Homo sapiens: one gene and its partners. The protein of the gene in region 2 interacts with the protein of the main gene of each other region in a biochemical or structural test. Each region holds a gene or a part of one and is shown on either strand. Other genes may lie near its edges. The genes, in order: RPS6KB1, RHEB and RAF1.

Evidence for each region.
Region 1: of the proteins of RHEB (region 2) and RPS6KB1, one has a biochemical effect on the other in vitro, tested with the Homo sapiens proteins (one study listed by BioGRID).
Region 3: the proteins of RHEB (region 2) and RAF1 form a complex in vitro, tested with the Homo sapiens proteins (3 studies listed by BioGRID and IntAct).

What each region holds. Positions count from the first base shown.
Region 1 is NC_000017.11:59,931,109-59,934,858, forward strand, and holds part of RPS6KB1 (ribosomal protein S6 kinase beta-1), read left to right. Parts: intron 1-513; coding exon 514-614; intron 615-3,061; coding exon 3,062-3,152; intron 3,153-3,325; coding exon 3,326-3,416; exon of another isoform or gene 3,417-3,420; intron 3,421-3,750. UniProt on the Homo sapiens protein: Serine/threonine-protein kinase that acts downstream of mTOR signaling in response to growth factors and nutrients to promote cell proliferation, cell growth and cell cycle progression.
Region 2 is NC_000007.14:151,471,261-151,475,010, forward strand, and holds part of RHEB (GTP-binding protein Rheb), read right to left. Parts: intron 346-3,750; coding exon 289-345; intron 182-288; coding exon 134-181; intron 1-133. UniProt on the Homo sapiens protein: Small GTPase that acts as an allosteric activator of the canonical mTORC1 complex, an evolutionarily conserved central nutrient sensor that stimulates anabolic reactions and macromolecule biosynthesis to promote cellular biomass generation and growth.
Region 3 is NC_000003.12:12,662,562-12,666,311, forward strand, and holds the start of RAF1 (RAF proto-oncogene serine/threonine-protein kinase), read right to left. Parts: upstream 1,557-3,750; 5' UTR 1,252-1,556; intron 948-1,251; exon of another isoform or gene 808-947; intron 236-807; exon of another isoform or gene 164-235; intron 1-163. UniProt on the Homo sapiens protein: Serine/threonine-protein kinase that acts as a regulatory link between the membrane-associated Ras GTPases and the MAPK/ERK cascade, and this critical regulatory link functions as a switch determining cell fate decisions including proliferation, differentiation, apoptosis, survival and oncogenic transformation.

The DNA of each region.
Region 1 (3,750 bases), on a different chromosome or scaffold from region 2:
GGGCAGATACTGTGGGCCTCAGCTGTCTATAAATATGTAGCTGTATTAAGTAAGGGATGAGTGGGCTTCTAAGGGTCAGGTTATAAGATACCTTTTGAAATCAAGATGTGATCTCTGAGAATAACAAAGTTCCTATTTCCTATGGGATTTTAAAGTTGGGTGTGGATGGGAGAAATTTGCTTGAAATGAATGGCTATTAGCTTAATTCCTACACAGACAGAACAAAACATGACCAATGGCAGTTTAGCATATTCTGGACATCTTTGCAATTTTAGCAATATATTCTAATGGCAAAATAAAGCACTTTATAGTTTCACTAAAATGAGTGAAACATAAATGTCCCCATGCCTTTTGGCAGCATCCTATGCCATCTCTTTTTCCAATACATCCCCCTACCCCACTAATTTGGTCTTTGGTGCATGTCTGTTTCTTTCAAGGAATTTTGCTCCATACGTAAACTGCTTTGGATAGATTACACTCTTTTTAATTTTATTAAATCACTTTTGTTTCCAGCTTTTACTTGGCAGAAATCTCCATGGCTTTGGGGCATTTACATCAAAAGGGGATCATCTACAGAGACCTGAAGCCGGAGAATATCATGCTTAATCACCAAGGTGGAGACATACCGTAAACAATTCTATAGTAAATAATCATCTTAAAATCCTCCCACATAGGTCGTGGCCATTTTCAAAGCCCCAAATTCATCTCTCTATTTTGTATATTTCCTCCCTCAGAATTCATGGCATCATAGTACTTGCTGATATTTTAAGTCTTTAGGTAATTACGCTTGGTGAGAGTAAAAGAAGTTGAGGATAATAGTCGCTCAACTGCCTTTTTTAGTTTAATCCTTACTCTTTATAGTTTTTCATGTTTTTGGAATCTTTACATCAAATGTTGTATAATGTTTTAGACTGTAAAAGCCAGTCTAAACATTAATTTTGGCTTGTTACTTAAATTGAAAAGTGAATCTCAATTATATAAGTTGAGTTTTAATAATGAAAATATGTAAATATTGGCTGGGCACAGTGGCTGACACCTGTAATCCCAGCACTTTGGGAGGCTAAGGTGGGTGGATCACCTGAGGTCAGGAGTTCAAGACGCCTGGCCAACATGGTGAAACCCCATCTCTACAAAAATACAAAAAAAAAAAAAAATTAGCTGGGCATGATGGTGGGTGCCTGTAATCCCAGCTACTCAGGAGGCTGAGGTGGGAGAATCGCCTGAACCCAGGAGGCGAAAGTTGCAGTGAGCCAAGATCGCGACATTATACTCCAGCCTGAGTGAAAAGAGCGAGACTCCGTCTCAAAAAAAAAGAAAATATGTGAATATTAGAAGCTATGCTTCTTACAGTAGGTTTTATTAATGCTGGGAAAAGGATTGAAATTGAACCAAAGTATTTGATAAAACTTTGGAAATATGATGTTTAGTAGGCATCAGGTTACTTTTTTTTTTTTTTTTTTGAGATGGGGGTCTCACTCTGTCATCCAGGCTAGAGTATGGTGGCATGATTACAGCTCACTGCAACCTCCGCCTCCCAGGCTCAAGTGATCCTTCCACCCCGGCCCCTCAAGTAGCTGGGGCCACTGTGGCACACCACCACGCCTGACTAATTTTTGGTATTTTTTGTAGAAATGGGGTTTCATCATGTTGCCCAGGGTGGTCTCAAACTCCTGAGCTCAATTGATCTGCCTGCCTTGGCCTCCCAAATTGCTGGGATTACAGGCATAACCCACCTTCCCCCCAGCCAGAATCAGTTTATTCTTGCTGTTTGTTTGTAACAACAAACATAAACATCAGAGAGACTGATAATCTATACAACTATAGATATAGCACAGTGAGCCTTGACTACAACTGCATGCTGCTAAAGACAGCTCAATTTATGCTAATCTGGGCTGTAGGTAGACTTGGCAATTCACTCGTACCCCAAAGGAGCAACCAGCTGACCCAGGGTATCTAGAAGGTGGTAGCAGCTGCTAATCCTTAGATGTCTACAGAATAATCCATGAGGTAGTTAATTGTTTCAAACTCTTAGAAAATGATGTATGAACAACTGAGGCTCATATAAACATTCCAGATTATACTCCTCCACCCACCTTTTTTTTTTTTTTAAGGAGAAATGATATACTTAACTGAATATATCATGGGAATCAGTGTCTCTTCCTTCCTCTCATCAACACCTCCTCACTCCCCAAAACGTGGATTCTGATCTGAATTATAAGTCACAGGATAGAATAGGGGAGCGATAGAATAGTTAACTTCTTTGATTTATAAGGTTGAGTGTATCAGATGGTTCTGTGAAAATAAAGGCCATACTTCTTCTGTATCAGAGTGTAGTATATATTTACATTTGAATCAATAGGTCATTGTGCCTTTTCTGTGAAATGAACCTCAAATACTAGAGTCCCTGAGATTGTTGAACCACTTGTTATGACAGTCCAGTAAAGAAAGCTAAACTTGAACTGAAATGATCTTTGTGTAAGGTGGTAAGTTTTTTACTTTCTGGATCAGTGATGATTGATTCATACTATCTAGCAATTTTCTTTCTTTCCCCTAATTGGTAGCATTGGGCAGAATGAGCTACCTTGTTATAATGAGTTTCTGAGACCATTTTAAGGACTCTTCACAGTTCACTGTGATAAAAGCTATATATTTGAAGTACTGTCTCACACCTTTGTTCAAAAGGTACAGAGTATGTTTATTGGGGTCTGTGTACGTAAACTAGACTTCATAAAACAGTTTTCCCAGGATTTTTCTTTTTCAGGATGGTAGAGAATTTTGTATATACTTAAAGCTAGAGCCTTAAACAGGTTATTTCACTTTTTTCTCTATCTTTATTTTCTCTTTACTAGATAGATTGTATCATTGGCAAAAGGTGACTTTGCCCTAGCCTTAAACAGTTAGCATCCCATTTTATGGATGGTACCTTGTTCTTGACATCTGCAAGAAAATTTGAGGCAAGAAAAGTTAAATGGAAGGATAGATTAAAGTATTATGTGACATGTTCAAACACTGCACATACTTATAATTCGGAGAATAATCATGCTGTAATCTTTCATTGTAGGTCATGTGAAACTAACAGACTTTGGACTATGCAAAGAATCTATTCATGATGGAACAGTCACACACACATTTTGTGGAACAATAGAATACATGTGAGCTACATGTTAAACATAATTGGTTTGGGGGTAATAGCTAATTTTACCTGTTTTAAGGAATAGTATCTGTTTTCTGTACCCTCATTGACTCTGTATATTGTTTTTAAAATTCTAATTCAGATGATATGCAAATGGGTGAATTTTTAAGCATATTATTTTCCTCATTGTAGGGCCCCTGAAATCTTGATGAGAAGTGGCCACAATCGTGCTGTGGATTGGTGGAGTTTGGGAGCATTAATGTATGACATGCTGACTGGAGCAGTAGGTGCACAGTTAAAAGCTGCATGTATTATTGGTCTGTGCTGAGTCACTATAGCAAGAGACCTGTCCTGTGCTTTCTGAACATGTTACCAGTGGAGTTTTCAAAGCCCAAAGATTTGTTATTAGCAGTTTAACACTAATAATGCTGTATGATTATATGGGATCCCATACTTTCCGAAACATTTTCTTTTAAATGATCTATGTCATGGCAGGCCTGTGAAATAGATGTTGAATAGATAATGCCCTTATTTTATAAATGGAGAAATTGAAGCATAAAATCACATAGCTCACTTATCACACAGAAAGTTAATGGTGGAAACACAGGCTTCCTTCC
Region 2 (3,750 bases):
CTGCACACGACCATAACACCTCTGAACGGATAAAAATGCTACAGCTAAAAATATTCTTGACATCAGAACAATAATTAAAATGATACTTCAGTGACTAAATCATCTTAGATTTGACTTTATAAAAGCTACATACCTTTCCATATGCAGGTCTTTCTTATTCCCAACCAACATAATAGGTATTCTATTTGTAAGAAAAAAAAGACAAACCAGTAAGTGCCAGATTGTATTGCTCAGAAGATACTATTAAAAGAAGTTTCTCTAACAAGCAGATAAAATGGTACTACTTACTGTACTTTCCCCACCATATCCAACAATTTGCCATGGATAACTTTAATCACTTCAAAACTATAAAACAAAAAGTATAAATTAGACATCCATTTTAATGTTGAAGTTTTTAAATGTATGTTATGTTGCCAGCTGGAAAAATGTAAAATGTCACAGACTCACCATTTTAACATAACATAAAATGAACACAAAGAACTCCTGTTTTTTCCTAGCAATCCATTCACATGTGCATACATCTGACACTCAGCAACCCTGACTGAGGATATTCAAAGTGAAACAGGTAAGGCATTCAAACGGAAAGCCTACCACTGGGCTGAGAAACCACATAAATGCAAATTTTAATCACCCAACTCATTCAGCAAAGAACCAACTGTTTACATTACAACTTGAACAGCTTTTCCTAGAGTGCCCTAGTACATTCAGCCTGCTCCTGTGTTCTTTCCTAGGTACATACATTCTCTGGGTGATGCCAGTATCTCTTGGCTTTCAATCAGATCAATGAGCCGATGACTCTAGGATGGAGGTGGCTCTCACCGGGAAGGGGATCTGAGATGTCATAATGATCACTTGAAATCTGCCACAGCAGGATTATTTATACCACTGACTGCTGGCAAATGGCCACAAATCATTTTCCACCCTCCCCCAAAAAACCCATGCAAACATCTGCCAGCACATCACTGGCTCTACTTTCAAATCCTACCTAGAATCTGACGGCTTCTCACTCCCCTCCACTGCTGCCGCTGAGGTGTGAATTCCTGGCCCAAGTCTGCCTGCATCAGTTCCACAGCCCCAACCCTTCCCCGCCACCCCTGCTCAGCACAGCAACCAGAGGACTCTGCTGCAGCAGATGGACGGTGCCTGGTTCAACATCCTCTGATGGGTGGCCATCTTTACTCGGCCCCAGTGACTCTCAAGCCGCAAACTTCTGACCTCGTGATCCGCCTGCCTCGGCCTCCCAAAGTGCTGGGATTACAGGCGTGAGCCACCACACCCAGCCTCAAATGTCACTTCTTACACCTCTTCTGTTTACCCTAAATGACAAATTTCCTTTCCATTTCTTACCCCTTCCGTACTTTATTTTTCTTGGCAGCATGGTCACAGACATCCTATCTCGCATGTGTGTCGTTTTACTGTTTGTCTCCCACACCAGAAATAATAGGTCCGCAAGGGCAGGGATTTGTCTGCTTTGTTCATGATTGCATCACAAGCTTCAGAATAAGTTAGCTTGTTGAATGAATTACACACTGTGCTATTTTAAACGATGTGTGCTGTCATTTGATAAAAACAAAAATGAAATTTAACCCCCCTACAAGCTCGCTGTGGGTCAACAAATGGGATATGGGTGTCCTAAGGACCTGCGGTTGCATTACAGAACCACGGTTTCCTCCGCATGCTGTATTTGCCTATCTTTAAAAGTGTCGCCACTTGGGCAAAAATACAGTACCCTGTCACGTGAGAAACAGCTGAAAGAACTAGGACTGTGTGGCAGGCAGCTTGGAGCCGGCTCCCAGATCTCCTGCTCTCCTAGTGGCCACACTGTGTGTCATCTCCCTGCATGGACCTAGTGACGTGCGTCTAATGAACAGAATATGGCAAAGGTGATGGAATGTCCCTTTTGCGGTTAGGTTATAAAAGACAGTGGCTTGTCATGCAGGAAATTCCCTGGCTCTCTTGTGCACCTGCCCCAATGAAGTGAAGCACCTGGCAAGGAGCAGAGGGCAGCCTCAGGCCAGCGGCCAGCAAGGAACTAAGAAGCTCAGTCCAACAACTTGCAAGAAACTCAACCCTGTCAAGAGCCACGTGAACACGCTGGGAAACATCTTCCCCCAGGCAAGCCTTCAGATGGGACTGCAGCCCCTGCTGATACCCACACTGTGGCTCTGAGAGACTGAAGCAGAGGACACAGCTAGGCCACACCCAGATTCCTGACCCACAAAAACTGTGAGATCATAAATGTGTACTGTTCTAAGTGGCTAAATTTCTTGAGATCACTGATTTTCTGAATCAAACTGGTTGATTCGGAAAGTTTTACTGACGTATTTCTTGGATATTCATAAATATTTGTGTATTCAGCATACAGATTTCTAAAAAACAAAACACCACTCTTCTCATACTCCCTCATGTCTCAAATTTGAGAATGCTGATTAAACTACGAGCTACTAGAAAAAAAAGGCATTATTTAAAACAGCCCCATTTGTTCCCAAACCCACTTATGCCAGTTAAATTCATCATAGTCATAATTTATGTTGCAAACTTTTGAAGTATGTGTAGACAGAGTTTTGTTTGTCTGAAAACTAGAAGTTGAATACTGTGAGTTGATCTACTAAAAACGGTGCTCCTTAATAAGGTGTGCCAAACCAACTGAAAAAGACTGGTGGGGAAAATCACAGCAATCTAAATAGTTGAGGTGTAGACTGTTTCCCAAGCATCTCACTCGGAAGAAACCGAACCAGAAGTCATAATGGACAAATCGTGGATGTAGTCATACTGAACAGCAGTGGGTGAACTCATATTCAAAGATGACAATTTGAAAATTTCACAAGATGAGTGACTGAATGTATATTTATGCTTTAAAACAAAACACTGGAGATTGACATCACCTTTCCGATTTTTTTTCCCTTTAACCAGTGTTGTTTTTTTGTTTTTTTTTTGAGACACAGCCTTGCTTTGTCGCTCAGGCTGAAGTGCAATGGCATGATTTCAGCTCATGATACAGTCTCCGCCTCCCAGGTTCAAGAGATTCTCCTGCCTCAGCCTCCCGAGCAGCTGGGATTACAGGCACCCGCCACCACACCCGGGTAATTTTTGTATTTTTAGTAGAGATGAGGTTTCACCATGTTGGCCAGGCTGGTCTCGAACTCCTGACCTCAAATGATCTGCCCACTTCGGCCTCCCAAAGTATTGGGATTACAGGTGTGGGCCACTGCGCCTGGCCCTTAACTAATGTTTTAAAGTAAGTAACCCGGCTGCCTCAGATAGGAGAGATCTACTCCTATATCAATATACCCAATTTACAGGCGACAAAGGTACGGTGAAGTAACTTGTCCAAAGTTGTTAGTGGGGATAAATGAAAACCCAAATCTCACATCTCTCAACTGCAGGTTTCTTTTTTCCATTTCTAGAAATTATGAAATAGGATGTATTTTCGCTTTATTTACTCAGAAAGAGCAATTCTACAGGGGTTTTATGATATAAAGGAATAATGTGAGACTTCTGTTTTATTTCACAAACAATGAAAATGGTTATTATTTAGATAGAGGTTAAATTCAATAAAAAGGATTAGACAATTCTGATCAACAAACTGGTTGATTCAGAAAGTTTTACTGACATATTTCTTGTATATTCATAAATATTTGTGTATTCAGCATATAGGTTTCTAAAAAACAAAACACCACTCTTCTCACACTCATGTTTGAGATTTGAGAATGCTCATTAAACTATGAGTTACTGAGGTAAAAGGCATAT
Region 3 (3,750 bases), on a different chromosome or scaffold from region 2:
TCACAATTCTAGCAACTTTTATTTTACTCTCATCTCTCACCATTTCCTTCCTGCACCCCAGGCAATTTGCTGCTCCCCAAACTCATCCCAACTCCCACATGGCTCTAAGCCTTTGTACCAGCTGTTCCCTGAGCTCCTCCTCACCCGATGAGCACTTACTCACAGGTGTTTCAAAACTCGACTCAGAAGTCTCCTCGAGTGTAGAAGCTTCCTCAACTCCTCCCCAAGCAAAACTAACTGTTCTAAATCCCCATAACACTTGATAAGCCAATTCTTATCACACTGCATTGTTTTCACGCCTTAGGAGCGCAGGGAGGGCAGAGTCTCTCCACTCAGCCCACAGAGGACCAGGCAAGCAGAAACGCTCAATGAACGTGCCTTGAATTCATTTTCCACTTAGATTAAGTGACCCCCTAGAACCCGTTCACATCTCAAGGATACACTAAGTTCCATTCCTTCTTCCCACCACAGAATGAATACCAGGGGCACACCCAGAGCCCTAGAACGAGAACAATGAATGAACACGGCCGCCTCGCCTCTCACGACGTCCAAACCCCTCTCTCTTGGGCATCGACTCGCTCGCAGAGCCTCAGCAGCTGCAGAGCTGAAGCGTCCCGGCGGCTCTCGCGTCACACAAAAGACAGCCCTGGCTCTTCATTCCAAAGCGTCCTGAGGCCAATCCTCTATAAGTATCCCAAACCTTTCATTAATAACCCAGAGTCCTGATACCCAAGGCTAGTCCTGATACCCAAGAAGAGGCCCCTGTGCCTTTGTGGTAGGGCACTGGCCAGTTTCCTCCTCTCTTACCCGATTCCTCACGTCGTCTCTAAAAGGGTGTCACTTGACTGAAGTACCCTGAGAAAGGGTGCAAGCCCGGGTCCCACATTCGGCGGCCCAAGAGAAAAGGAATTGGCCCATCCAAGTGACAACAGATATGGGGCAGCTCTGGGCGGATTTTCCCACTGCCAAATATGAGGAATGCGCATGGCATAAGGGTGGCGTTGGCACGTTTCCGCCAAACACAAGGAAATTTGAGTGGGATGTGGGAACTCGGCTCGCCGGCCATGACACCGGACTCCGGGGCCCCCGCCCAACGCTACCCCAGGGTGACAACGGCCTGGCCCAAGCCCTCTGCCCGGCAGCCGCGGGGCCGCTCCATCAGCGCCACCCAGGCCCGGTCGCCCTGGAAGCCGATCCCTCAGCCCCGCCGCCCGGCTCCCCCGGCATCCACGACCCGGTCCTGCCACCTACCTGAGGGAGCCAGGCCGCCCCAACGTCCTGTCGTTCGGCGGCAGCTTCTCGCCCGCTCCTCCTCCCCGCGGCGGGTGAGGGAGCGGGAGGCGGTCACATTCGGCGCGTCCCCAGCCCAGGGGACGGAGCCCCGAGCAGCCCCCGCATCGTAGCAAACGCGCTCCGCGCCTCAGGGCACGCGCCCCAAAGCCCGGCCAGCTGACCCTTTTCGGGGCCCAAAAAAGGCAGCAGAAAGCCGTTCCCGCCTCACAATCGTTTTCCTCTTACTCCCGCCATCTAAGATGGCGGCCCAAGCGCCCGCGATTAAGACTCTCGGGCGGCCCAGACGAGCGAGCCCTCGACTCGGTGCTCGTCCTCCCGACCTGCGACGCCACCGGCTCTCCGATTCTGCGCGAGCCCTACTGGCAGTCGACTTCTAACTTGGCTCGGGCATCCATCGCTCTGGCCTGAACTCAGGCCCCGCCCCCGGGGCGTGGCCTAGCGATCTGGTGGCCGCCATTTCGAAGCTGAAGAGGTTAGGCGACGCTGACTTGCTTTCAGGAGAGGCACTCGGTAATCGAGAAGAACCGGCTTTCGGCCAGCCAGGAGTGGCCAGAGGCCTAGAAGGGGAGAGGAAGGCCTGCCTGCCCAGCATTGCAAGGCCCAGCGATCACCAGACGTGCCTCAGGACACAGGGCACAGTGTCCAACTTTGACGCGTCCTCTCCGGGCACTTTAATACCAAATCACGGCTCCGCCACTTGACAGCTATGTGGACAGTCCCTGAACCTTAAACGGTCTTTTCCTTGTGTGTAAATTCCGAGTTCATTTTTCCCCCATCACATTAGCAACAAGTTAAAAAAACTGATAATATCCGGTTTGGTCCAAGGTATATTGAAACCTGTTGTGTGCCCTCGCAGCGCTATCACAGTGGAACTTGGACATGTTAAAAGTATATATCCTTCCTCCCGGCAGTTTCACTTCTAGACACTAATTCTAGAGAAATAAGTATACACATACACAAAAAGCTATGTGTGAAGATATTTAATGCCATATTATTTGCATTCTGGAGAAACACTGGGGATGAAATGAAGATTAATAGGAAACTGGTTAAGAGAACGCTGCTACACATCCAATCTGGGTTGTCATCCATCCAAGAATGAACTAGATAGTTACTGAATTTAAAAAACAACAAAAAAAGGGCCCGGCGCTTTTTTTGGGATTACTCCTGTAATCCCAGCACTTTGGAAGGCCGAGGCAGGCGGATCACCTGAGGTCGGGAGTTCGAGACCAGCCTGACCAACATGGAGAAACCCCGTCTCTACTAAAAATACAAAAATTAGCCGGGCGTGGTGGCGGGCGCCTGTAATCCCAGCTACTCAGGAGGCTGAGACAGGAGAATCGCTTGAACCCGGGAGGCAGAGGTTGCAGTGAGCCCAGATCGCACCATTACACTCCAGCCTGGGCGACAGAGCGAGACTCCGTCTCGAAAAAATAAATAAATATAAAAAAATAAAAATACCAAATTAGCTGGGCATGGTGGTGCATGCCTGTCATCCCATCTACTCGGGAGGCTAAGGCAGGAGAATTGCTTGTACCCAGGAGGCGGAGATTGCGGTGAGCCGAAATCGCGTCATTGCACTCCAGCCTGGGCAACAAGAGCGAAACTCTTGTCTCAAAAAAAAAAAAAAAAAAGACATGGCTGGGCGTGGTGGCTCACGCCTGTAATCCCAGCACTTTGGGAGGCCGAGGCGGGCAGATCACTTGAGGTCATGAGTTTGAGACCAGCCTGGCCAACATGGTGAAACCTGTCTCTGCTAAAAAATACAAAACAAATAGGCCGGGTGCGGTGGCTCACACATGTAATCCCAGCACTTTGGGAGGCCGAGGCGGGCAGATCACGAAGTCAGGAGATCGAGACCATCCTGGCTAACACAGTAAAACCCCGTCTCTACTAAAAATACAAAAGATTAGCCGGGTGTGGTGGCGGGCCCCTGTAGTCCCAGCTACTCAGGAGGCTGAGGCAGGAGAATGGCATGAACCCGGGAGGCGGAGCTTGCAGTGAGCTGAGATCGCGCCACTGCACTCCAGCCTGGACAACAGAGTGAGACTCCGCCTAAAAAAAAAAAAAAAAAAATTGGCCAGGTGTGGTGGTGCGCGTCTGTAATCCCAGCTACTCAGGAGGCTGAGGCAGGAGAATCACTTGAACCCAGTAGGCAGAGGTTGCAGTGAGCCGAGATAGCGCCACTGCACTCCAGCCTAGGTGACAGAGCCAGACTCTGTCGCAAAAAAAGGAAAAAAAAAGCCATTAAGTTAAAAAAGCAGAACATAATGTATGATCTTATTTACGCAAACACAGGAACACAAGATACCTACCTAATACTACAGAATGCCATGTGCACTATTACTTTTCGATATTGAGAGCCTATTAGGTACCACACATTATTTTGGATATTGGAAAATTAACAGTAATCAAAATCCCTGCCATCTAGTAATGGGAGATTAAAAGAAAATATAAATA